4 linked regions of the Homo sapiens genome follow. The protein of the gene in region 2 interacts with the protein of the main gene of each other region in a pairwise test. Each region holds a gene or a part of one and is shown on either strand. Other genes may lie near its edges.

Region 1 (7,000 bases), on a different chromosome or scaffold from region 2:
AGCAAAGGTGTCTCTTACAATCAGGGTCTGCAAAACCTTTCTAGAGGAGGAGCTAAGGCAAGCTTGTCCAACCCGCAGCCCAGGACGGCTCTGAATACGGCCTGTTTACGAACACAAATTTGTAAACTTTCTTAGTGTGACGGTAGTAAAGTCCAGCCCACAGAAGTTGGTTTTGGGGTTGTCACTATGTTTTTCTCATACTGGTTAAGACTTGTCATTTTTTCTCTAAAAGTATCTAGACATCTGGCTACTTTGGGAAAATCAGAGGATCAGGCAATACTGAGCCCACATCCTCATAAGCAACAATCACCTAGAGCTGAATAAAGATTTACCTTCTAGACAGACTACAGCCTCACCTCTGTGCCACAGTCCCCACCACTCTTTATTGTCTAGCACCTGGCTCATCTTACTTGCTTCTGTGGTGTGCCTGGCACCTGTAGGCTTCTGAGAACACCTGACTCACAGTGGTCAATCCCACATTTATCAAATAACTCTTTCATGAAAAGGTCAGTGACATGAAGAGTAACATGTCTCTTTGCAGCATCCTGCTTTCCCCCATAAATTCAAACAGGAAAAGAGTAATACTTCAATCAAGAGAGCTGGCCCTTTCTATCACTGGGGAAAAGGGACACACAGCTGCCAGCAGATGGCTCCCTGCTGCACTTGGGATGAAACCTGAGCACCTAAAAATGGCTGTCATGGCTGTCTTGTGGACCACCCACCCCTCTGAATGCACTTCCTTCCCCTCTGCTTTGTGTACCGCCCTCCCACCGCAAGGGCTTCCTTTATGGTTTCTTAACCACCAAGCTCAGAGCCTCTCAGTGTCCTCTGGCTTGTCAGCTCACCCTTCTGCCAAGTCTCAACTGAAATGTTTCCTTTCCCAAAAGGTTTCCCTGACCAGCCTATTTATAAAAGTAGGTCAACACCACCTCCCAACCCCCAGCCTTATTTTCTGTCTAGGCAGCTCCTGGCACCTTCTGCCATTTCAACTGCCACTTCCACACCACAGCTGCTTGTTTACTCTCTGTCCACCCTAGCCCTCTCATCATGGTGCACCTAGCCTTCAGCCCAGTACCTGGCATACGGTACATGTACAATAAACATCTGAGGACTAACAGAATGAAGGGATAAATGAACAGCCATTAGAAATGGACAGGACACCATCCACCCATGTCTCCTGACTTCCAGTTACCTCTTCAGCTTCTTCCTCTGAGTCAACCACAGGGAAGTCTTGCATGGACTGAGTGGTGCGCTCGGATCCATAAGCCCCCACAGCACCTTTTCCCTTTCTCTGCTTGGCTTCAATTGGGTTAATGATACCTGAGGAATTTCAGCAAAAAAAAAAGAGAGTCTTACGATCACAGCAATTCATGTATGTGAATCAGCCACTCAGTGAAATGACAGTTTCTTGCTCCTTCCACAAAATAACATGCTACTCAGGAAGGAGAGCTATTCTCTGCCCTCAGAACACTACTCTTGTCCCTTGTGATTTGAAACTTATGAGCATTTATGCTACCACAGAACAGTCTGCTGACTAGTTTATTTATATCCCAAATAGATTTCCATTTCCACTTGGATTGTTTAGTGGACAGGAAGAAAACAGAACACTACATTTATAACTGAGAACTCCAGCACACTAAATTCTATGCTTCACTTCTTTGGGAGCCTCTATTAGGGAAAATGCAATAATTCCAATACTATACTGATTCTGACTGAAGTGAAGCTGCAATTTAATATAAGACTCCTCACATATTTTACTTAGGAGTTCCTATCTCCTGTGTTTAACTTTTTTATAACAAGTTTAAGCCCTGGAAATAAACGTTGTTTTTCTCATAAAAGAGTTTACGAATAGGACCACAACATTTCAATGAAGACGTTCCCCTGACTCCAAATTTTCCATCCCTGCCCCCCTTCCATTTAGTTCCACTGAAGTCTTAAATAAGAGCTATCCCTGGGCCAGATGTGGTGGCTATGCTTGTAATCCTAGCACTTTGGGAGGCCAAGGTCTTGAACCAGCCTGGGCAACATAGTAAGACCCCATCTACAAAAAAAGAAAAAATTAGCCAGGCACAGCAGAGTGTGCCTGTGGTCCCAGCTACTTGGCAGGGTTGAGCCCAGGAGGTTGAGGCTGCAGTGAGCTATGATCATGCCATGCCATTGCACTCTACCCTAGGTAACAGAGTGAGACTTTGTATCAAAAAAAAGCAAAAAAACTGTCCCCTCATTCTCATTCAGTGTATCTTTACTCAAGTTCATGTATTTTTCATGTACCTAATGTTTTCAACACATAACCTGGATTTCACTTTAATAATTATTTAGAGGCCAGGCGCAGTGGCTCACACCTATAATCCCAGCACTTTGGGAGGCCGAGGAGGATGGATCACTTGAGGTCAGGAGTTCGAGACCAGCCTGGCCAACACAGTAAAACCCTGTCTCTACCAAAAATACAAAAATTAGCTGGGCGTGGTGGCGGGTGCCTGTAATCCCTGCTACTCGGGAGGCTGAGGCAGGAGAATCACTTGAACCCAGGAGGTGGAAGTTGCAGATGAGTTGAGATCGTGCCACTGCACTCCAGTCTGGGTGACAAGAGTGAAATTCTGTCTCAAAAAATAATAATGTTATTATTATTATTTAGAGACTGGAATTTGAATATGTAGGATACATTTGATTATATCTACTTGGCAATCATGCATAGGAAATAGCTCAAGAAGAGGGGGAAATGTTCCTGTAGGAAGAATCCAACTGTTTGGTTTGAGAGGCTTTGGTCTCAAGAAGGTAAGAGTGTGACAGGGGCTGTGTCTCAATGGGGCTGGCCATGAGAAGACAGGAGGAGACTGGGCTACTAGAGGAAGATGGAAGTAACCAATGCAGGATTTGCTCAGCCAGTTTTATAGCCATATGGCTCTAGCTATTACAAAAACTATGCACGATGTTTTACTGATATTCCTGAAGGACAAATAGGGTTATTTCCACAAAATTAAAACCCTTGTGAGTAGGGATGGCAAACTCAAATGACTCTGGGACCAAGAAAAGTTCCTGTGGGTTGGGGTGGAAGACAACAGGGGGTAATGGAGACTGCCTCCAAGAGAAGGCCATGTCCATCGTCCCAGGAGCAGTTCTCACTTGCCTCAACTAACTACTGCCAGGCAAAATCTAGAATTTTAGGTGAAATTGTCTGTTTTTTAAATATTAGCAACTAATTCATTTTTGTTTTTATTTATTCTATTTATTTATTTATTTATTTATTTATTTATTTATTTATTCAGGGATGGAGTCTCGCTCTGTTGCCCAGGCTGGAGTGATCTCGGCTCACTGCAACCCCCACTTCCTGGGTTCAAGCGATTCTCCTGCCTCAGCCTCCTGAGTAGCTGGGATTACAGGCACATGCCTCCACACCCAACTGATTTTTGTATTTTTAGTAGAGACGGGGTTTCACCATGTTCATCAGGCTGGTCTTGAACTCCTGACCTCAAGCGATCCACCACCCGCCTTGGCCTCCCAAAGTGCTGGGATTACAGGTATGAGCCACCACACCCAGCCTCATTTTTGTTTTTAGAAGCACTGGTCAGGACCAGAAAAAAAGCCTGTTTTCAACCTGTTTGCAGCCTGTTTTAGACCCTAACCCTTTCCTTGCTGTTGAAACAATTACTTATTTAACTTGAGCTTTGATAAAGCAAGGTAGCTTAGGAACGCAAATGTCTTGTGCTGGCAAACCAGGCTGGAGAGATAAAGTGCTTTTAAAAGGGAAAAGCAAACCTCCTCTCCCAACGCCCCTCTCCTTCCCTATGCCTGCCCTCCTCCATCATGCAAGACGACAAAGGTGCAATACCTTGTGCATTCTTCCCGAGGCCCCGTCCAGGGACGTAGCCCATCTTCTGAAGAAGCTTCTGTCCAATTCCTTTTGTGTGTCTTTCCCAGCTGCCGAAGTCCATGAAAGATTTGGTTCCTCCTGCAAAACCTTTCTGGCTGGGCTTAAAATTGCCACCCTGCAAAAAAGAAAAATCAAAGCTTAGTTAATGGAAAAACAAAATGAAGAAAAATCTAAGAAAGCTTGGCCAACAGGAAAATGGCCTAAGTTATACAGCACTATGAAAAGTGTCATATGAACCAAAAATGTGTGTGATAACGTGTCAGGAAGGAAGAGACTGCACTACACACTTCACAACTCACAGAAACCTGCCACCAAAAGGAGACACTCACGAAATTCATTCCAGATGAGTTTCTCCCTGGCTAGAAAATGCTTGGGCCACAATGACCTTTGAAGGATATTCCTAGGGTCACAATCCTGCAATAGAGACTACCGTTTTTAGCTTCCTTGGTCCAAAATCCTTAGGAAAGTCGTCCTGCTTAACAGGTTTCTCTTCGTCATCAGAATCTTCCAACTCTGCCTCCTCCGCTGCCCCTTTCTTGAGCCCTGCGCTGATGAAGTTGACTGGCGCAGAGTAGTCACGGGCCCTGTAGGCACAGAAACAAAGCCCCACCAGGTCGGTAAAGAACTCTTTTCTCTGCAGCGATCCTTTTGCAGAAACTACGTGCTTGAAGACTCCTTAGAGTGAATCTCATGGGAGGTTTTTTAAAAAAGTAACACATTTTTTAATGTGTCAAAAAATCCAAAGGACCCCAGATTTGGCTTCCTGTAGTCACATTTAACATTTTACCTGACATATCCCTCTACGGCTGAAGAGTTATCACATCAATGTAGGGTTGATTACAAATTCAAAATATGATGTGATAATACAATTTTCCTACATTTTAAAAAATTAATTTATCATAAAAAGCAATTGTTTTGAAAACTATTTCAAGTACAAAAATCCAACAGGAGCAGAAATTTTGATGGAAAATCATAAATAAAACCCATTGAAAGATTATATGAATGTAAAGCATGTAACAATTATATTAATCAAACTTAGAAAAAGCTCCTAGCCATTAAATTTATTTGAATGTGAAAATTTCCAGCCAGGGCAACATGGTGAGACTTCGTCTCTATAAAAAAAAAATAAATAAAAATTAGCCAGGCATGGTTGTGCAAGCCTGTGGTCCTAACTACATGGGAAGCTGAGATGGGAGGATTGCTTGAGCCCAGGAAGTTGAAGCTGCGGTGAACTATAATCATGTCACTGCACCCCAGCCTGGGCAAAAGAGTGAGACCTTATCTCCAAAAAAAAAAAAAAAAGAAAAGAAAATTACACTAAAGTCCCCTAAGAAATAAGAAATTAACTCTATAAAATGAAATATATTGATTTAAACTCTGACTGCTTCAAGTACTTACATTAAGCCATTAACCTCAGGTCTTTTTTGTATAAAATAAAATTGATATATTTGTACTGTGTGGTTTAAAAAAGAAAAAATTACAATAAAAAACCCTGGAGCCAGGTACAGCGGCTCATGCCCATAATCTCAGCACTTTGGGAGGCTTGAGGCCAGGAGTTCAAGACCAGCTGGGCCAACATAGCAAAATCCTATCTCTAATAAAAATACAAAAAACTAGCTGAGTGTGGTGGCACACGCCTGTAATCCCACGCCACTCAGGAGGCTGACGCATGAGAAACGCTTGAACCCAGGAGACAGAGGGTGCAGTGAGCTAAGGTCACGCCACTGCACACTCCAGCTTGGGTAATAGAGACTGTGTTTCAAAGAAAAAAAGAAAACCTGGGAATACAGCAAATAAAGGGATGCCTTGTAAAATGACCAACCTAGTAATTCAACACCCTCAGGGCAACAACAGAATTTAGGGAGTTTTTTCCTAAAATTGTAATATAACTTAGTGATTTAGATCCCAAACTCTAGAGTCAGATAGGTCCAGGTTCCAATTCTAGCTTAGCCTCTGCCTAGTTGTATGACCATTAGCCTCAGTCTCTTAATCTGTAAAATGGGGACAATAATGGTACCTTTCTCATAAGGAAAATTAATCCAGGTTTATGAAATAGCCAGGACAAGTAAGCAGCCAAGAGATGTTAGCTATTATTATTATCTTATGATTATGCAATTCTTGTTCCCTGATCTATTTGTCATCCACTTTCAGACTTCCTTGTGGATGAGAAGTTTGGACTAATCTCTATACTCTTTCTCCCCCAGCCTCCTTTGAAAAAGGCACATTCTCAGCTGGGTGTGGTGGCTCACGCCTGTAATCCCAGCACTTTCGGAGGCCGAGGCAGGCGGATGACAAGGTCAAGAGATCCTGGCCAACATGGTGAAACCCCGTCTCTACTAAAAATACAAAAATTAGCTGGGTGTGATGGCACATGCCTGTAGTCCCAGCTACTCGGGAGGCTGAGGCAGGAGAATCACTTGAATCCAGGAGGCAGAGGTTGCAGTGAGCCAAGATTGCACCACTGTACTCCAGCCTGGCGACAGAGCAAGACTTCATCTCAAAAAAAAAAAAAAGAAAAAGAAAAAGGCACACTCTCAATAGGATAGAGCCTAGAGGCCACAGGTGAGGCCATGGAGGAAAAAACCCCCAACCTGGCACACCCTGGTTGAGTGAGGTTCAGCCAGGGCACACATAACCTTGTGCTGGGGAGAAGACGTGCAGCCTGAATCCTCATTGCCCACCACTATCCTAGACCAGTCCTCCACTACCTGTGCAGGGACCACTGGCTTGGCCTCCTCACAGTCTTCCACTGTGGCTCCATGCCTATTGAGCACACCAGCAAAAGGGTCTTCTCAAAACATAACCCAGCCCCACATCACACCCTCTCTATCACACACACTATGCTACCCTTCCCCCTCTCTGCTCCAGCCCCCAAGCCTTTCATATCCTTGTGGATACCGTGATGCTTCCCATCAAGGGCCTTTGCATATTGGGACCTCTTCTACCACCCTAGTTACCTTCTACTGTCAGTCATATCAGCTTAAGGGTCACTTTTCTCCACAGAAATCTTCCTTGACCTCTCAGAATAGATGAAATGCCCTAAAATGTGTTCTCCCTCATGTCCTCATGTCCCTCATGTCCTGCATCACAGTCACAAGTTTGATCGTCTGAGTTGTTAATGCCTATTTC
Region 2 (9,670 bases):
GTGTACACCTAGGAATTGTTTGCTGAGTGATGGCTATATGAATGTTCAGCCTTCTAAGATAATCTCAAACTATTTTACAAAGTGATTGTACCTACTTATACAGCTAACATGAATGGACTGGAATTCCCCTCGGCCACCTTGCTATCGTCCAACTTTTTAAATTTTTCCGATTGGCAGATGTGGAATGGGCCATTCAGCTTTCCTCTTCTCTGCAAATCTATTCATATTTTGCCCACTTTCTCACTGGGATGCTTTTCTTTTTCTTATTGATTTGTAGGAATTTTCCATATTCTGGAAACTAATTGCTTGTCAGTTACATGACTTCTAAATATCTGCTCCCTGTTTGAGGCTTTTTTCATTATAATTATGGTATATTTTAATGAATAAAAATTGCTAAATCAGTATCAATTTTGTACTTCACAGTTTTCACTTTTTGTGTCTTGTTTAAAAATACTCCTTTACTCTAATTCCTAGAGATATTATTCTGTGTTTTCTTCTAAATGTTGTATAGTTTTTAACTTTTCACATTTTTATCTTTAATGAATCTGGAATTCATTTTCTTATATTTTAGGTAAATTTTGCCTTAGACAGAAATACAACTGCCATTTGTTAAATATGGGATACTCCATTTCTTTCCTCATTGATTTGAAATGCCCAAGCCGTACAAAATTAGTTTCTATAGGCAACAGATCTGTTTCTGAGCTCTTTGTGCTAATTCACTGGCTTATTTCCAGATCATTGTAAGAGCCATCATGTGAAAGGCAAAACCATAAAATTAGAAAACATAATATGCATTCTTTTTTTTCTTCAACTTTTATTTTAAGTTCAGGGGTAAATGTGCAGGATGTGCAGTTTTGTTACATAGGTAAACATGTGCCACGGTGGTTTACTGCACAGATCATCCCAACACCCAGGTATTAAGCCTAGCGTCCATTAGCTATTCTTCCTGATGCTTTCCCCCCAACCACAGGTGCCAGTGTGTGTTGTTCTCCGCCATGTGTCCCTGTGTGGAAAATATAATATGCATTCTTAACCTGTCAATATCTAAAGTTAATCTGTATGTTTGCTGTTTTCCTAAACAGTCCCGCAATTTAGAACAATTTAACTCCATTCATCCCCTTCCAGCCCTCATCTACTTTAATTCCATATTGTTTTTTCTTCTCAATAGATATATTATTTTATAGCCAATACTTGTCTTTACATTTACATTTGGTCGCATGCTTAGCACTCTATTTGTTCATTATTTTAATTCTTTTATGCATCTCAGAACTTTCATCTGGAATCATCTTCCTTCTGCTTAAAACACATTCTTTCAGATTGCTCTTAGTGAAAACTTAGAAGTTGATGGCAAATTCAGTTTTTTAAATGTTGAAAATGGCTTTATTTTACCCTTCTTCAAATATAATGTTACCGAGTCAGAAAATTCCGGAATGGCAGTTATTTCCTCCCAGCACATTGAAGATTCTATTCCATTTCCAGTGTCCATTGTTGCTTTTGAGGAGTCAGTCATCAGTCTAACCACCATTCCTTTGTTGGTGATTTATTCTCTATCTGCTTGTAATTATCTGGTTTTCTGCCTCAATGTGTGTAGTGATTTATTTTTATTCCTTTTGCCTGGAATTCATTAGGTCTCCTTAATCTGAGAACTTGGGTTTTTTTTAAAGAATTCTATAAAATTCTCACTTTTTATTTTGTTGAATGTTTTCTTATTCTCTTGTGTCTTCTTCTGGAACTCTGATTAGACATATTTAGACCTTCTAATTATAGCCTTCATGCCTTCTTGACTTCCTCCTTCGTCACTTAGCTGCATTCTGGAAATTTTCCTCAGAGCTACATTTTGTTCAATAATCCTGGCTTAATCTGTTCCTGGATCCATCCACTGAACTTGTAATTTTAACGGCATTATTTATTTCCTCTGGTTTGTATTTCAGATCTGCTTGGTACTTGCTCCAATTTTAAGTTTGTTTTATTTTCTAAAACAATTTATATTTATATTCTTCATCCAATCATTCTATAGCCACTATGAGACAATAAATAAATCCATCCAACTCATCAAAACACAGCTGAGAATTACCAAATAAGTACAAACAAAAACCTAAATATGACTGATTAACTGTGCAGAATACAATGATGTAAGTTTACTATACATCAACCTCCTTGTACCCATCTCCTCGCTTCAACAAATAACTCAGGGCAAAACTTCCTTCATCCATACTTCCACCCTCCTTCTCCCTGTCTGAACAAGATGCCACTCCAGAGACTGCAGGTTCTATGTCTATCATATGTGATTGCAATAGCTTGGTCATGGTAGAATACAAAAAAAAAGAAAAAAGTTGAAAGCCCTCTGAAAACTGTAGTGCTTATAATAGCCTTCCCAACTACTGGCCATACTTAATATTAATCATTAACACTCTCAGTAGAGTGTCTCAGAAGTCAAAATGTATCTCCTACTAGCTACAAGGAAGTTGGGATCTAATAAGTATTTATTTACAGCTGCAGTCACCCAACAGCCTGAAATACCAGGGTCTCTAAATTCATGACTTTGTGTATGAACAAGGGTCAATAGGATCTTTACTCAGTCCTCGAGATATAACTCAGAAAAATGAATTGCTGTGAAAAACTCACTTGATTTCCTGTGGTCACATTATAAGATCGAATAATCTACAAAAGTACAAAACTCAGTGATATAGAGAAGCCAGCAAATTCTCCTGCCCTTATATAAACAGGTGGGAGGCTTTCCAGTAGAATTTTTTCTACTCCAACAAATTGGTAGATTGAATGACTATACCTCATAATGATGACACTATTGTATCATATTTTAGTTTAAATTTAAAACCTCAAAAACTTACCAAAACTAGCCAAAGATTTCTGGAATAAGATATAGACAAAGTTATTTCTCAAAAAAAAGAAAAAAATTGGCTGGGCCGGGTGCAGTGGCTCACGCCTGTAATGCCAGCACTTTGGGAGGCTGAGGCAGGCAGATCACAAGGTCAAGGGATCAAGATCAGGCTGGCCAACGTGGTGAAACCCCATCTCTACTAAAAATACAAAAATCAGCTCGGCGTGGTGGTGCCCACCTGTAATCCCAGCTACTAGGGAGGCTGAGGCAGGAGAATTGTGTGAACCGGGGAGGGGGAGGTTGCAGTGAGCTGAGATCATGCCACTGCACTCCAGCCTGGTGACAGAGCAAGACTCCGTCTCAAAAAAAAAAAAAAAAAAAAAAAAAACGGCTGGACACAGGGGCTCACACCTGTAATCCCATCATTTTGGGAGGGTGGGGTGGGAGGATCACTTGAGCTCAGGAGTTTGAGTCCAGCCTGGGCAACATAGTGGGACCCTGTTTCTACCAAAAATAAATAAATAAAAATTATGTAAGCATGGCGTGTGTGCCTGTAGTCCCAGCTACTTGAGAGGCTGAAGCAGGAGGATCACTTGAGCCTGGGAGGTCAAGGCTGCAGTGAGCTGTGATTGTGTCACTGCACTCCAGCCTGGGTCACACAGTGAGACCCTGTCTCAAAATAAAAATAAAATGGAAAATAACTAAAAATGGGATTTTCAACTCTTTGATATAAATAGGTCCAGCCATAAGGAAGAATTGTGCTACAAAAGAGAACAAAAATCATCATGTTTAACAACTGCATTCATGTTCTTTTCTAATTATAAAGCTAACTATTGATTTTATAATGCTTCTACACACCTTGATCATGTGTTAGCATATGAAACTCTTAGCTGAGACCAACTTACTATAAAACTTGTGTAATTTAAATAGTATAATTTTCCAATGACTTTAATCTAACAACCTCCTACCCCATTAATCAACACCAAAAACAATTCATCTTTGAATACATGTATAAAGAACATAGTTCATGTGTTTATAAAAAGTTCTTCTCTGCTACAGAGTTTAGCTGTGACATCTATTAACAAAGTAATTTATAACTCTAATAAGTTAGCAAGGTCTTCTTGCTACCAGTCCAGTCATTGGTGGTGAGTACTCAGTATTGGCTGATGAATACATGAATGGATAAAAATATAAGAGCTGCCCACACATATACCATAAAATGCATAAAATAGATTCCATTTTATCTCAATTTTTATTTCTGTGATATAACTAAGATAAAATCAAACACAATGTATTATTTTAAAGTATACTGTTTATAAGAGAGAAATAATATGATCTGACCTTATTTTAGAAGAAAGTTGTGTGTAAAAGAAATTTAAACTCAAAAGTAAAAAAGCCACTGGTTTCTAAAAACTCAAAAAAAATTTTTTTTAAGTGACTGGCTTTCAGAACAACAGCAACAACAAATAAGCCACTAAAATAAGACAATTAAATTCCAATTTTTTTTGCATTTACTTGCTTGCTTAATTATATACAAATCTCAATTCCATTAAAGTATCAGGATGACAATTAATTAGATGTTTTTAGTGACTTTTCCAATCCCTTCTAATTAACTTGGAAGTGATTAACTGATTATCTAATTATATTAATTAGTGATTATCTAATTAACTAAGGAAGTGATTTACATGCTTCATGGGAAGTGTGAATTCTCAGCCAGGGGGTTTGAATGAAGGGAAGCAAGTGACTCAGGCATTTATTGGTTGCTTACAATCAGATTCCCACCGATGAGATCATGCCCATGTGTCTAGAGGTCCACACACAAGCAGCTGCCTCCAGCCCAACCCTGGAAGCTGAGTGTAGTCCCAAGTCCCCGCCTGCACCCCTTCCTATATAAACAGCCACTCTCGCTGTGATTATGGGGGCATACAAGGAAGATCAGGCTTCCATGGAAGCTTCTGCAACTGAAATCCACTGGGGACTTTAGAAGGAGCACCTGTAAGTAGCTTCAGGATGGATGGGGCAGAGTCTGTCTCATGGTGGGTGTTAAGCTGGCCTCATACAAAAGAGGAGACCCATCCTGATACCATGCCAGGTACAAAGCACTGTGTGATTTATTCTAAGTGTCTTGGTAACAGGACTTGAAGCCAGGTGGTGACTGGAAACCTAAAATGCAATATTTAGTCATAGAACATTAGAAATAGAAAGAAAATAACCTCCCAAATCATCTAATCCATCACTCAGCTAAATTCATTTAATTCACATCCCCAAACTACATCTCCAAATGTACAATGGTTTCATTCCTGGTTTAGGGATTCGAGGTTTTGTGTTTGTACAAAATATTTTAATAGTCTTATAAAATAAGATGTCCAAAACACAATAAACTTAAAAGCCAAACACAAGCAAAGCATGAAACAGAGGTTCTGAAGAGCAACTCCTCAATACAAATCAAACATTGTCCTTTATCTCCATTGTGACTTTCAGTTATGTAGGCACATCTGCCTTTTTAGATACCTAAATTATACATGAGGATTGTAAATATTCTTTGTGTGTATGTTAGGATGAAAAAAACCTGCCAAGGCAGGCGCATGGGCTAAAAGAATACACTTTCCTGTTTCCTTTTATTACCTGTTTAATTAAAAAAAAAAAAAAGTTGCCCCTGATAAAAGCCTCCAAGAAATGCCTCTAGTGGTATTTTCTGGAATTGAATTAAGCATATTAACATATTGCTATACAAAGCGGGGGGCGTGGAAGTAAGGCAAGGTGGACTGTGGTGCCAATCCTAGTGACATGTCAGCAGAGGAGGAGTTTCTTGCCTGTGGACTTCATAAAAGGCTAGCTCAACACCCTCCATGAGACACACTCTGCCCCAACCATCCTGAAGCTACAGGTGCTCCCTCCTGGAATCTCCAATGGATTTCAGTCGCAGAAGCTTCCACAGAAGCCTGAGCTCCTCCTTGCAGGCCCCTGTAGTCAGTACAGTGGGCATGCAGCGCCTCGGGACGACACCCAGCGTTTATGGGGGTGCTGGAGGCCGGGGCATCCGCATCTCCAACTCCAGACACACGGTGAACTATGGGAGCGATCTCACAGGCGGCGGGGACCTGTTTGTTGGCAATGAGAAAATGGCCATGCAGAACCTAAATGACCGTCTAGCGAGCTACCTAGAAAAGGTGCGGACCCTGGAGCAGTCCAACTCCAAACTTGAAGTGCAAATCAAGCAGTGGTACGAAACCAACGCCCCGAGGGCTGGTCGCGACTACAGTGCATATTACAGACAAATTGAAGAGCTGCGAAGTCAGGTGAGAGATGATGCTTGTGTTTCCTACTCTGTGTTTAGCTTCAAGATAAATCAAGAGGTTATCTATGTTAGGTAGGTCCAAATGGACTTTGTAAAGCAAATTAGGCTAAAATGTTACATCTATAAAAATTCTTTCATCTACCTTTAGTGCTGGAGTACCTGACTGTACAACAGGATGACCTTAAATCATGCTATTTTTAATGTTTAACACAATTACATACAAAATATGAACATTTTATCCTCCGGAATAAAATGAATCTTTGTCACAGCTTATCACATCAGGGCTAAATGTATAGTGAACAATCTTTCTGAAAAGAGCTAAAAATTAATTACGTGATAAATCTCTCTTAGTTTTTCACCTAGTCCTTATCAAGTTTTGAAACCCCAGTAAATTCAAAGACTTTTCTCCTTTTATTTAAGTAAATGTTATAATATGACTATTAGAATACTGTACTGCAGATTTAAATAGCAAAGTGATTCTGGGTGGAAACAGTGTGGCAGGAATATGGGTCTTAATGATGCCTGGATTTTTAAGTGCCCTGTTTAATAACATGACCATCAGCATCAAGCAGTTCAGAAACTACTTCTACAGTAATAAAATGTTCTATTGCCCCCAATTCATGTTTATTACAATCATATCACAACCTCCTCCTATGTCATCAAAAAAAGGGTGGAGCTCTGTATTTTATCAGTTTCATGGAATAAAAGCAGAAGACTTTGCTCCTAATTGAAAATTTCAGATATGACACAGAGCACTTGCTTCAAATTAAAGTTCTTATCTAATTAAGAAAAGTGTTCACTGTAATTTGTGTTAAGATTCATACTCCTTTAGAGCAAAGCGCATTTACTTACCAGCAAGTCTGTTTTTCTTGAGTTGTACTAAACATCAGGGCAATTTGATTCGGACTCCATGGGAAGTTACTTTGGAATTTTAGAAACTATGGGCATGTGAAGCAATGGCATTTAAATAGCCCTTCCGGAATAAAGTTCATCCTTCGCAAGCTCTCACTAAAAATGTTCGAACCACACCTGTCTCGTGTTTCTGACTCTAGTTTGGTTCATCTGAAATACACAGGCACAGGCCATCCGTCCCATTGAGCTGGACAGTCCCAACCATAGGAAGCAGCCCTCTCCAAAACTGGGTCCATTGAAAGAGAAATGTCATTGTAACATCTTCTGCAAGTAGATTTTTCATCTATATGCCTCCATCATGCATTTCGTTCTTTCATGCATCATGTTCTTTCATTCAGCCAATACTGAATGAACACTAACTAGGTGCTGGGCACCATGCTGGGGACTGAGGAATATTATGGTGGACACAATATGATTTATGAGGATACAGGGATGGACAGAGGGACCAGCACACAGAGGGATAATGAGAGCACAGGCAGATCATCCAGTTCAGTTTTGAGAGCATCTGTGAAGGCTCCTATGAAGCAATGTTGTCGAACCTGAGACATGAGGGAGGAATGGGAGTTCACCAGACCACAGGGGCTAAAAGAAATGTCCTAAGTAGAAACATCAAAGGCAAGGCACTCAATAAGGTGTGATGACTCAAGTTGAGTTAAATTATCCTTCTGTAAAATCACAAGAAAGTAGACCAAACCCTGGGGCATCTAGAGTTGCATTTTATGACTCTGTTATGTTAAATAACTATGTCATTATTTTTTCTATATATTTTCATGTAGAAATACTTGAAATGAACATCATTTTTGACATAATAGTCACTGTAGCTGGGGATAAACTAAATCCTTGTAAACTCCTATCCAGTTGAAAATGTCATTCTTGGCCGGGCACGGTGGCTCACGCCTGTAATCCCAGCACTTTGGGAGGCCGAGGCAGGCAGATCACCTGAGGTCAGAACTTCAAGACCAGCCTGGCCAACATGGCAAAATGCTGTCTCTACTAAAAATGCAAAAATTAGCCGGGCATGGTGGCGGATGCCTGTAACCCCAGCTACTCGGGAGGCTGAGGCAGGATAATTGCTTGAACCTGGGAGGCAGAGGTTACAGTGAGCCGAGATCGTACCATTGCACTCCAGTCTGGGCAACAGAGCAAGATTCTGTCTCAATAAATAAATAAATAAATAAATAAATAAATAAATAAAAAAGAAAATGTCATTCTTTCTCATGTATTTTCCAGATTAAGGATGCTCAACTGCAAAATGCTCGGTGTGTCCTGCAAATTGATAATGCTAAACTGGCTGCTGAGGACTTCAGACTGAAGTAGGTTCCCTAATACGTGGCAAAAGTTTCTGAAAAAGAATTCCTTTAGTAGTCCTTCCAGATACTCAGCTTTCCATATCATTGTTGATAAAGGAAGCACGGTTCAATGTCCAGAATCCTGAAGCCTAAAGGAGGTTAGAAGCTACATGTATGAAGCTAACCCAGCACTCAGGGATGGCCTTCTCTTTCTTGATCCCCCGGCATGTAACTAAACACCTCCAGTAACTACTATTCTCCTTGGTTATTACTGGTTGCTAAATTTTTTTTTAGTAACCTGGTATCTAAACCTAATTCTGCCCTTTGGAGTAATAACAAAGTAATTTACAATTCTCCTTCTCCCTAAGTGCCTTTCTGTTATCTAAAGAGAGTCTTGTGTCTACCCTTGGTGATTCTCCAAGTAATTCTCCACGTTCATTCAAGTGCCTGCAAGTGTATGACCCAAGTTCCAGGGGTGACTCTTGATGATTTCTGGCTTGCCAGTGTTTTACAGGATGGTCTGGCCAACCAAAGAACCAGGACCAATCTATAATAATTAGCTGGGCGTGATGCCGTATGTCTGTAATCCCAGCTACTCCGGAGGCTGAGGCAGGAGAATCGCTTGAACCTGGGAGGCGGAGGTTTCAGTGAGCTGAGATCGTGCCATTGCACTGCAACCTGGGCAACAGACTGAGACCTTGTCTCAAAAAAAAAAAGGAAGAAAGAAAGAAAAGAAAAAGAAAGTAAAAATTGTGTTCACTTTCTTTGTAGTCATCACACCACATGTGACCAGACCTGTTCCTTGCAAACAGCTTCCACACTAAGGCCTCTTCATCCTGAATTTGTACAATGCATTAACACCAAAAAGCCCTTTGTGGTTAGAAGGGTAGCCTTTTAATGCTCCAAGGGATTAACAAGAAGGAAATAGGAAATCAAATCCAAAGATGAAAGCAGTAAAGGTGCATTACTTCCAATTTTACCTAGCACTGAGTGTCACATTGCAGTGTCATTTTTTAAAGTTGGATATTTTAGGAAACTGGGCAGGGCATGCATGATGGCTAACGCCTGTAATCCCAGCACTTTGAGAGGCTGAGGCAGGAGGCTCACTTGAGTCCTGGAGTTTGAGAACAGCTTGGGCAACGTGGCAAAACCACATCTCTATACAAAAATACAAAAAAAATTAGCTGGGCATGGTGGCATACATCTGCTGTCCCAGCTACTTGGGAGGCTGAGGTGAGAGGATTGCTTGAGCCCCAAAGGTTGAGGCTGCAGTGAGCCATGATCACACCATTGTACTCCAGCCTGAGTGACAGAGTGGGACCCTGTCTCAAA
Region 3 (8,144 bases), on a different chromosome or scaffold from region 2:
CGGAGTTGGAGGCTTCAGCGAGCCACGATTATGTCATTTCACTCCAGCCTGGGCCACACAGCGAGACCTCATCTCTTTTTTTTTTTTTTGAGACAGAGTTTTGCTCTTGTTGCCCAGGCTGGAGTGCAATGGCCCGATCTTGGCTTACCACAACCTCCACCTCCTGGGTTCAAGTGATTCTCCTGCCTCAGCCTCCTGAGTAGCTGGGACTACAGGCACGCGCCACCACGCCCGGCTAATTTTTGTATTTTTAGTGTAGATGAGGTTTCCCCATGTTACTAAGGCTGGTCTCGAACTCTGAACCTCAGGTGATGCGCCCGCCTCAGCCTCCCAAAGTGTTGGGATTACAGGCTTGAGCCACTGCACCCGGCTTATTTATTATTATTTTTTATTTTTTTTGAGGCAGAGTGTCGCTCTGTAGCCCAGGCTGGAGTGCAGTGGTGCAATCTCGGCTCACTGCAAGCTCCGCCTCCCGGGTTCACGCCATTCTCCTGCCTCCGCCTGCCGAGTAGCTGGGACTACAGGCGCCCGCCACCACACCCGGCTAATTTTTTTTGTATTTTTTTAGTAGAGACGGGGTTTCATTGTGTTAGCCAAGATGGTCTCGATCTCCTGACCTTGTGATCCACCTGCCTCAGCCTCCCAAAGTGCTGGGATTACAGGCGTGAGCCACCGTGCCTGGCCAATTTTTGTATTTTTTAGTAGAGATGGGGTTTCACCATGTTGGCCAGGCTGGTGTAGAACTCCTGACCTCAGGTGATCTGCCCACCTCAGCCTCCCAAAGTACTGGGATTACAGCCATGAGCCACAGCGCCTGGCCTTTAATTTTTTTTTTCTTTTTTTTTTTTTTTGGGAAACGGATCTTGCTCTGTCACCCAGGCTGGAGTGCAGTGGTGCGATCTTGGCTCACTGCAATCTCTGCGTCCCAGGTTCAAGCGATTCTCCTGCTTTGGCTTCCCGAGTAGCTGGAATTACAGGCGTGCACCACCACACCCAGCTAATTTTTGTATTTTTAGTAGTGACAGGGTTTCACCATGTTGGCCAGGCTGCTCTCAAACTCCTGACCTCAGGCTGATCCGCCCGTCTCGGCCTCCCAAAGTGCTGGGATTACAGACGTGAGCCACCACGTCCAGCCTAATTTTTAAAAAATTATTATTGGCCAGGCACGGTGGCTCACACCTGTAATCCCAGCACTTTGGGAGGCCGAGGCGGGTGGATCATGAGGTCAGGAGTTCAAGACCAGCCTGGCCAACATGGTGAAACCCTGTCTCTACTAAAAATACAAAAAAATTAGCTGGGCATGGTGGCACGTGCCTGTAATCCCAGCTACTCCAGAGGCTGAGACAGAGAATTGCTTAAACCTGGAGGGGTGGAGGTTGCAGTGAGCCGAGATTGCGCCACTGCACTCCAGCCTGGGCGACGAGACTCCGTCTCAAAAAAAAAAAAAGAAAAAAAAATTATTACTGTCCGGGCACGATGGCTCATGCCTGTAATCCCAGCCTGTAATCTTAGCACTTTGGGAGGCCGAGTTGGGCGGATCACGAGGTCAGGAGATCGAGACCATCCTCGCTAACACGGTGAAACCCTGTCTCTACTAAAAATACAAAAAATTAGCTGGGGATGGTGGCGGGCGCCTGTAGTCCCAGCTACTCGGGAGGCTGAGGCAGGAGAATGGCGTGAACCCGGGAGGCAGAGCTGGCAGTGAGCTGAGATCACGCCAGTGCACTCTAGCCTGGGCGACAGAGCGAGACTCTTCTCAAAAAAAAAATTATTATTATTTCAAACAAGGATTAGACAGGAGGAAGGACTTCCAGTGGATCTCTAGTTTTTGTTTTTGTTTTTTTGTTGTTTTTTTTTTTGAGACAGAGTCTCACTGTGTTGCTCAGGCTAGAGTGCAGTGCTGCGATCCCAGCTTACTCCAACCTCTGCCTCCCAGCTTCAAGTGATTCTCCTGCCTCAGCCGCCCAGTTAGTTGGGACTCCAGGTGCCCGCCACCATGCCTGGCTAATTTTTTTTTTTGAGACCGTATCTTACTCTGTTGCCCAGGCTGGAGTGCAGTGGCATGATCTTGGCTCACTGCAACCTCCGCCTCCCAAGTTCAAGCGATTCTCCTGCCTTAGCCTCCCAAGTAGCTGGAATTACAGGGGTCTGCCACCATGCCAGACTAATTTTTATATTTTTAGTAGAGACAGGGTTTCACCATGTTGACCAGGCTGGTCTTGAACGCCTGACCTCAAGTGATCCACCCGTCTTGGCCTCCCAAAGTGCTGGGATTACAGGCATGAGCTACCACACCTGGCCCCTAAATTTTATTTTTAGAGATGAGGTTCGAGACCAGCCTGGCCAACATGGTGAAACTCCGTCTCTACTAAAAATACGAAAAGTAGCCGGGTCTGGTGGCATGTGTCTGTAATCCCAACTACTTGGGAGGCTGAGGCAGGAGAATCGCTTGAACCTGGGAGGCGGAGGTTGCTGTCAGCCAAGATCGTGCCACTGTACTCCAGCCTGGGTGGCAGAGTGAGACTCTGTCTCAAAAAAAATTTTTTTTAATTAAATAGGATATTTCCCTTATCAGAGTATAATTTTGCTCTTATTGGTATATCGAACCAGATGTGGGTCTCTGAGAGCACAGCAGCTGCCACTGTCTGGGCAGCTCCAATGTCCAGTGTGGGCCAAGCACGGACTTGGCCTAGGTTAATGTCACTTTCTTGTCTTCTGCCTCCCTTAGGGCCTTCCTGCTGTCCCTGGTGGCACCAGTGGCATTGATGGTGGCCAGGTGGGCAGAGCCTGGGACCCAGAGAAGTTAGCCCAGGAACTGGCAGCATCGCTCACCAGGTGTGTGCCTGGGTCCTGGGCTGTGCGGGGGGTGGGCAGGCAGCCTATGTGAGAGCCCCCGGGGGTGTCGTCTGCAGTAGAAGCTAAGGTGTACCCCGGTGTACAGGTGTGTTTACATGACAATACTGTGGGCAGGTGGGTAGGAGGAGACCTGGGAAACAGGATCGGCTGGGGCTGTGAGCCCCCTCTCTTCTCCTTCGCAACAGGACACTGGACCTGCAGGAGCAGCTGCAGTCTCTGCGCAGGGAGCTGGAACAGGTGGCTCAGAAGGGGCGAGCCAGACGGTCTCAGAGTGCCGAGCTGAACAGGGATTTATGCAAAGCCCACAGGTAGGACTGTTCTGCATCCCCCCAATCCCCCTGGCACCATCCCCCACCAGGATATCAGAAGTATCCCTGGCTGTCTCTGGGCCTTAGCATTCCCCACTGCCCCAAGATAGGCAGTAACGGTCAGGTGTGGTGGCTCACACCTGTAATCCCAGCATGTTGGGAGGCTGAGGCCAGCAGATCACTTGAGGTCAGGAGTTTGAGACCAGCCTGGCCAACGTGGTGAAACCCCATCTCTACTAAAAATACAAAAATTAGCTAGGCGTCTTTGCACGTGCCTGTAATTCCAGCTACTTGAGAGACAGGAGAATTGCTTAAACCCAGGAGGTGGAGGTTGTGGTGAGCAGAGATCACACCACTGCACTCCAGCTTGGGTGACAGAGCAAGACTCTGTCTAAAAAAAAAAAAAAAAAAACAACAGGCTGGGCCAGGCGCAGTGGCTCACGCCTGAAATCCCAGCACTTTGGGAGGCCAAGGTGGGCAGATCACCTGAGGTCGGGAGTTCGAGACCAGCCTGACCAACATGGAGAAACCCCATCTCTACTAAAAATACAAAATTAGCCAGGCGTGGTGGCGCATGCCTGTGATCCCAGCTACTCGGTAGGCTGAGGCAGGAGAATCGCTTGAACCCGGGAGGCAGAGGTTGCAGTGAGCCGAGATTGTGCCATTGCACTCCAGCCTGGGCAACAAGAGCGAAACCCCATCTCAAAAAACAACAACAAGAAAAAACAGGCTGGGCATGGTGGCTCACGCCTGTAATCCCAGCACTTTGGGAGGCTGAGGCAGGCGGATCACCTGAGGTCAGGAGTTCAAGACCAGTCTGGGCAACATGGTCAAACCCTGTCTCTATTAAAAAATACAAAAAAATTAGCTGGGCGTGGTGGTGGGCGCCTGTAATCCCAGCTACTTGGGAGGCTAAGGCAGGAGAATCACTTGAACCCTCGAGGCAGAGGTTGTAGTGAGGGGAGATCTTACCATTGCACTCCAGCCTGGGTGACAAGCGCGAAATTCTGTCTCAAACAACAACAACAACAACAACAAAAGACCAGCTAGCTGGGACCCTTGGAGACCCAATGTGAAAGAGCCCCCATTCTGGGAGTGGGAGTACACGGCCCTTGCCTTGGGTGGACTCGGGGGCTGTTTCCTGACCCAGCCACCCACCCCTTCCAGCGCCCTGGTCCTGGCCTTCCGAGGAGCCCACCGGAAGCAGGAAGAGCAACGCCGGAAGTTGGAGCAGCAGATGGCACTCATGGAGGCTCAGCAGGCCGAGGAGGTGGCGGTGCTCGAAGCCACTGCAAGGGCCCTGGGGAAGCCCAGGCCTCCCCTCCCGCCTCCCCAGCTTGGGGACACCTTTCTGTAGGCCCCTTACCCAGCCATGTCTGGACATGCCAGACAGCTGTGGCATGTCATAAACTGTCCTGGAGTGACATCATGTCATGTTGCATGATTTGGCATGTTGGGGCACATTTGGCGTGAGGGAAGCTGGTGCACATGGGTGTCCAGGGCCTGATGGGGTGTGGCCAGGCAATGAAGAAAGACTCAGGTGTCTTTGGCCTGGCACCAAGTGGAATGTGAACTTCATATCAGTGGGGTCAGGCCAGAAGCAACCTGGGCTATGGGACCAGGTCCCTGGGACTGACGCATTTCGGGGGTCCGTGAGGTTGCATAGCCACAGCTGAAGTTCCAACTGGCCTGTCTCCCGAAGCCCAGGGAGGGATTCATGGGGACTGGACAGAGCTTCTCCTGGCAGCCCCTTCCCAGGGAGATGCTGGGTTTGGCTGGCAGATTTTCCTGAAGGGGGCCGGGCTCAGTGGTGCACATCTGTAATCCCAGCATTTTGGGAGGCCAAGGTGGGTAGATCACTTGAGCCCAGGAGTTCAAGACCAGCCTGGGCAACATGGCAAAACCCCATTTCTACAAAAAAATACAAAAATTAGCCAGGCGTGGTGGCATGTGCCTATAAAGATATTTAGGAGGCTAAAGTGGGAGGGTAACTTGAGCTTGGGAAGTGGAGGTTGCAGTGAGCTGAGATCACGCCACTGCACTCCAGTCTGGGTCACAGAGTAAGACCTTGTCTCAAAAAAAAAAACAGGCCAGGCGTGGTGACTCATGCCTGTAATCCCAGCACTTTGGGAGGCTGAGGCGGGGAGGATCACCTGAGGTCAGGAGCTTGAGACCAGCTTGGCCAACATGGTGAAACCCCCGTCTCTACTAAAAATACAAAAATTGGCTGGGTGTTGTGGCACATGCCTGTAATCCCGGCTACTCGGGAGACTGAGGCAGGATAATTGCTTGAACCTGAGAGGCGGGGGTTGCAGTGAACCGAGATCGCGCCAACAACAAGATCGTGCCCGGGCAATAAGAGCAAAACTCTGTCTCTAAATAAATAAATAAAACACAAAACAAAACAAAAAGGAGGGAGACTGAAGCTGGAATGGTTCAGATTCAGGGTGTGGATGACGAGTTGCTACTAACTCAAAGCTAAGGTCAAGGGTTTCTGGACTCCATGTGGTCGAGCTTGCCTGTAATCCCAGTATCTCAGGAGGCCGAGGGAGGAGGACTGCTTGAGCCCAGGGGTTTAAGACCAGCCTAGGCAAAATAGGAGAGTCTGTCTCAAAAATAAATAAATAAAATAAGGTAAAGGGTTTCTGGGTGGGGGACAGGCATAGCAAAGGTAATAGTCTGGGACTCAGGGGGCGTTGTACTTCAAGAGAAACTCAGAATGAATGCCAATGGTGGCCAGTTCCAGCTTTCTCCTGGGGGCCCAGGAGCTGTGGGACGTGTCAGGTTAATAGCAGGCAATGAATTAGCATGTCATTTGCATAAGTCACATCTCCCTGCCCCTCCACACCAGGACTGGCTGAGTCTGGGAAAGGGGAGCTTGGAACGACCCAGCCAAGCTTGGATTAGTGGCCAGCTGTCCCCCTTCAGGGTGGCAGCTGAAACCCGAGACAGGGATTAGAAAGACTTTCATTCCCAGCCTTGGGGGCAGGTGCTCCAGGCCTCACCTGTGCAGGTGTGTTCACCGCCTCTCCCAGGGCAGGACCACGTCAGCCTGAGGTCAGCGCCAGTCAGCGGCCTGGACTTGAATCCAGTCAACCTGACCCCAGAAACAGAACAAGAAGTATGGTGGCGAGCACAGTCCCCTCCAGCGAGGGCTGGGGCTAGTCACCTTCCGACCCACACGCTGTCCCTGGACTTGGGCCAACTTTGAAGAAAGCAGGGAAATGGAGGCAGACCACCTTGCTCGTGTTGGGGTGGGGCAGAGAAGCTGAATTTCTTCCCTGTACCCTGCCGAGCCCCAGAGTCTAAGACCTGAGTTCCTGGTCCCACCAGGTTGCCTGTGGAGGGGCAAAGGGAGCCAAGGTCACATGTGGGAGGACGGAGACAGGTTCCCAGGCTGCCCCAGCAGGATCTGGCCATTCCCACGGGTGCCCCCTCAGCAGATGGGCCTAGGCCCCTTTGTCCCTGGTTTGCGGCCGCCGCAAGGTCAAATGTTACTGCAGGGCCGCGGGCAGGGGTCAGGGAGGCGGGGTAGAGCCTTGATCCACCCCCAGGCGGGCCCCAGGGGGCACAGGGGTGGCCAGGCTACTGGAAGGGGGTGGGGCAGCCTTTGGGACTGGAACTACTGGAGTTTCTGGGATCTGCGATGGTCTTTCTTCCCCCATCTCCCACCCAGCTCTCAGCTGCCTCGCAAGACTTGTCTCCCCCAAACCTAGTTCTTTGCTCCCTCCCCTTCACAATCCCCTCAAGATTCCTTGAGTCTTCTCTCCCTCTTCTTTTTTTTTTTTTTTTTGAGACAGGGTCTTGCTCACGCTGGAGTGGAGTGACGTGACGTGATTATAACCCACTGCAGCCTTGAACACCTGGGCTCAAGACGGGTCTCACTTTATTGCCCCGGCTGGTCTTGAACTCCTGGTCTCAAGAGATCCTCCTGACTTGGCCTCCCAAAGTGTTGGGATTACAGGCGTGAGCCACAGCGCCTGTCTCTCATCTAAATCTCTTTTCAATCCCTTCTGAGACCTCCACCCCAATGCTCCCCACCAAAGATCCTAGCAGGTCCAGGCAAGGGGCCTAGGATCCCTGCCCTCATCCCAAATTACCAGTCACATTCCCATGCAGCCTCAGAACCAAAGGGTCGTCTCTGCCCACCCACGCCTTCCTCTCTCCCAGCAGGGATTACATCAGGCTGTGGGCAGAACCCGACTCTAGACCTCGGGAAGTCCTTGCTCATGTCTAATCCTAGTCCTTCCTGCTTTTCGTGTTTACTAACGCCTCCTCCTCCACCTCCCAGGCAGCCAGAACGTCCCTGGAGCAGGTTGAGAGGCCCAGGGCTGGGTGTGCCTGGCTCTCCCAGAACCTCAGTTTCTTTTTAAGTGTTGTAAGATCTCTAAGAATCTTTCCCCCTACTCCAGGGAGGGCAATTCTTCAAGTCTCATCAGGGCTCTGGGAGGCAGAGGAGGGGGTGCGCAGAAGGCACTGTCCTGGCCAGAGCTCTCAGAGGCCCAGCTGCATGCTCTGGTGTCCAGCTCTGGGCTCAGGGCGGGGTGGGACCACAGTCTGGGTGGCTGGGGCTGCAAGACTCCGAGGTGAAAGGTCACTCCTGGAAGGGCTTGTCCAGCCGGTTAAAGGTTAACCTGCCCAGAGCCAGAGGCTCGCCAGCCCGGGCCTCGCATACAAAGGGTGCTTAATAAATGCTGGTCGGGCGGGCCCCAGCCCCGGTACTGGGGGATGGGGTGAGTTGGAGGTGGCGGCAGCTGCGAGGCTCCAGGGCGCCTGGAAGAGACATCTGCAGTCCAGCCGGCCGCCAGGCCAAGCCCTTTCTGCAAAGCACAGAAAGAAAAGGAAATTAAAAGGGAAAAAGGGGCAGGCCCCCAGACAGGGCATGCCTGTCGCCTCCAGCCGCGCGGGGCGGGTGGGCGCCCTGCCCCCGGAGGCCAGAAATTCTGCAGAGGGGCCCCCTGACCTCGCGGCCCCGGCCAG
Region 4 (2,601 bases), on a different chromosome or scaffold from region 2:
CCTTGACTTCTTGCCCAAGGCCTGCTACTGGGGTAGCAACTGACAGCTCAGAAAGGAGCTGAGCTCCCTCTGCCCTGCCAGTTGTCAGTCAGGCAGGGAGGGAGTGGCTGTGTTGGTTTGGGGAACTAATTTCCACGGACGGCTGCCCGTGGACACCAGGTGGACTGGTTCACTAATCAAGTCAGCCATATTGTTCTCTGGCTAAGTTTGGTTCCAGCCAACGTCATCTGCTCTTCAGTTCCTCACTGCCTTCTTGGGATACTAAGACTTGAATTTTTTGGGGACTATTAAGGGTGTTAGTCTTGGAGAAGACACAGCCTCACCTTCTCACTTGCTGTGGGTGAGGGGCCATTTAAGTGGACTGGGAGACAGTGCGCAGTTTGTATATAATTCCCTTTCTTGTGGAACAGAAGACTGAGGCCTGCAGGTTCCGATGTGTCTCCATGGGCTGTGCTCCCCTCTTCCTACTGTCAGTTTCTGAAACTTCTGACTGGCCTCCCAGTTATGCCTCCTCCTCAAGTTCCTGGCCCGTGGATGTTAAAGCTGCTCGATTCCCAGGATCTCGGCTGCCTTTTCCTCTATCTTGAGCCCTATAAATGCCCACGGGACCCCCACCACCAGCCTCTTGAAGTGGCTCCACAGCTCCTGTCCCTGGAACATCCTGTCAGTTTGGTCATAAACCCTGAGCCAGATGAAATGAGCCACCGTGAACAGACATCTGCCATGCCCCCAGGTGGGCTTCGGTGGCCCTACCCGGTACCAGTTCTTTCTGAGAAACTGGAGATGTCTTGTTAGCATAAGTGTCTTCATTCCCACCTGGAGGGTTTGGGAGAGGAGCAAAGCAGTTGAAAACTAGTTAATGAGCTACAAGAGTCAAATAGTCCTCTGAATGGAGCCCCCATCACAAAACAGTGCCCAGGAGGCTGGCTCCTCAAGCTACCCATGCCCAGCGCCCTAAAGCAGCACCAGATGCTTTGGAATTGGGGTGAAACACCCACATGGCAGCCTGCTAGCAGCAGTGACTTTGACTTCTGGTCTTAAAGAGTCCCTCACTTCAGCCCCAGGAGCTATTGGTGGGTTTTAGCAGTTTTGTCTTTACCGTTTTTAGTTCTCCTTGATTCTTTGTTTTCTTCCTTTATCGTTTTTAGGTTTGGTATGTGTTGTTTTATTTCCATGGTTCCTCAAGTTTCCTTTTTAAACATTTGCATTTGCTGGACAATTGCAATTTTTTTTAAAAAATTCCCCTACCCCTGTTTAAAGCTGAAAAATACATTTGGTTCATGTGCATTGTTTACAAAGCAAAAAGAAAAAAGAGGAAAAAAAGGCAAAAAATATTGTGAAAGAAAAAAAACAACTTAATATATTTTGGATTAATATTTGGTATTTCTTTTAAAGTATTTTTTGTGCTGTGAACATTTTCTGCCAAAGACCATGATGTGTGTCTGTATGTTTAAGTTATCGTAAATATTTAAAATGTAAACATGGCTGTTTTGTTATGCCACCCTGTACCAGGATTGCTGCCGCATTCCACTGGGTATAACAGTATTTTAATTAAAAAAAAATAATTAAAAGTGATGTCTTTGCACAGGTGAGACTTTGCACTGAGGGAAGGGAAAGGGTGAGGATTTTGGGGGGCCACCCAAGTCATAGTCCAATCTCTTCAAGGACCCAAGATAGAATTTAGGAATTTTGTGAAGCTGCATTAAGGATAGAGTTGGAATGAGGATGTGGCTGGCATTTTTCCCCTTTCATAGATAACATTTCTTGAAGGCTGGGAGGGGAAGGAGGGCCTGGCAGATGGCAGCCTCCCGAGGTAGGGCTGTGTTCTAATCAGCTTTGTTCGGCCACACGCTGTGGTTATCCACAGTGGGAGTGGGTGTCCAAAGATGGCTTTATCCTTCCCCCACTCCTTTTCCCACTCCCACCTAGCACATAAAGTTTTGTCCGAAACCATCCAGAAGGCCAGGCACCATGCAGAGGACATTCAAGAATGTGCATGTTCTTAGCCACCGCCTCCCTCCTTTGCTGTGACATCACCACTCTTTCCTGATGCTCAGGAAAGCATATTGCTCCAATTCAAAATTAAAGAAAGCCATTCTCAGTCTTGCTTGTTCTTGTATCAGAAACAAAATACCTGTCTTGTGCTTCTATAAGTGTGTTAGGACCCTGAGGTTCCCAGTCAGCATGTGGCCAGCAGTTAGCTGGCCATGAGGCAGCAGCAGGCTACCAGACAGCCTACGTGACATGTGACAGGAACAGTTTCCCACCATGGCCGTGAGTGAAGTGTCTTCGGGGCCAATGTGGGAACTCGGGAGCCATGTTGATGAGTAACTAAGTTGAGATCCTAGAGAAGGTGTCTTCCCGAGCTGGCCTACCAGCCCACAAGTATGAAGACAAGCAGGTGGAAGAATTGGAAACATCCAGAAACTTTTCTAGCAACTTTGCAGATGGTGATGGGTCCCACTGGATGAGGAGCTCTCCATGCAGAGGCATCAAACCCACCCCATGGCCACACCTCCACCCAACCCTCCAGCCTGCCTCCTGCCACTGGGGCACTATCTATGCCAGCCTTTCTCCCATTGAGCCCTGAACTAGAGTCAG

What was found.
Region 1: the proteins of KRT20 (region 2) and TFIP11 interact in binary tests that used the Homo sapiens proteins (3 or more experiments, as listed by UniProt).
Region 3: the proteins of KRT20 (region 2) and USHBP1 interact in binary tests that used the Homo sapiens proteins (3 or more experiments, as listed by UniProt).
Region 4: the proteins of KRT20 (region 2) and AMOTL2 interact in binary tests that used the Homo sapiens proteins (3 or more experiments, as listed by UniProt).

What each region holds. Positions count from the first base shown.
Region 1 is NC_000022.11:26,502,474-26,509,473, forward strand, and holds part of TFIP11 (tuftelin-interacting protein 11), read right to left. Parts: intron 4,456-7,000; coding exon 4,302-4,455; intron 3,987-4,301; coding exon 3,830-3,986; intron 1,321-3,829; coding exon 1,193-1,320; intron 1-1,192. UniProt on the Homo sapiens protein: Involved in pre-mRNA splicing, specifically in spliceosome disassembly during late-stage splicing events. Intron turnover seems to proceed through reactions in two lariat-intron associated complexes termed Intron Large (IL) and Intron Small (IS).
Region 2 is NC_000017.11:40,881,264-40,890,933, reverse strand, and holds the start of KRT20 (keratin, type I cytoskeletal 20 precursor), read left to right. Parts: upstream 1-5,691; 5' UTR 5,692-5,748; coding exon 5,749-6,138; intron 6,139-8,279; coding exon 8,280-8,362; intron 8,363-9,670. UniProt on the Homo sapiens protein: Plays a significant role in maintaining keratin filament organization in intestinal epithelia. When phosphorylated, plays a role in the secretion of mucin in the small intestine.
Region 3 is NC_000019.10:17,246,602-17,254,745, reverse strand, and holds the end of USHBP1 (harmonin-binding protein USHBP1), read left to right. Parts: intron 1-2,728; coding exon 2,729-2,835; intron 2,836-3,041; coding exon 3,042-3,164; intron 3,165-4,331; coding exon 4,332-4,521; 3' UTR 4,522-5,575; downstream 5,576-8,144.
Region 4 is NC_000003.12:134,354,847-134,357,447, reverse strand, and holds the end of AMOTL2 (angiomotin-like protein 2), read left to right. Parts: 3' UTR 1-2,101; downstream 2,102-2,601. UniProt on the Homo sapiens protein: Regulates the translocation of phosphorylated SRC to peripheral cell-matrix adhesion sites. Required for proper architecture of actin filaments.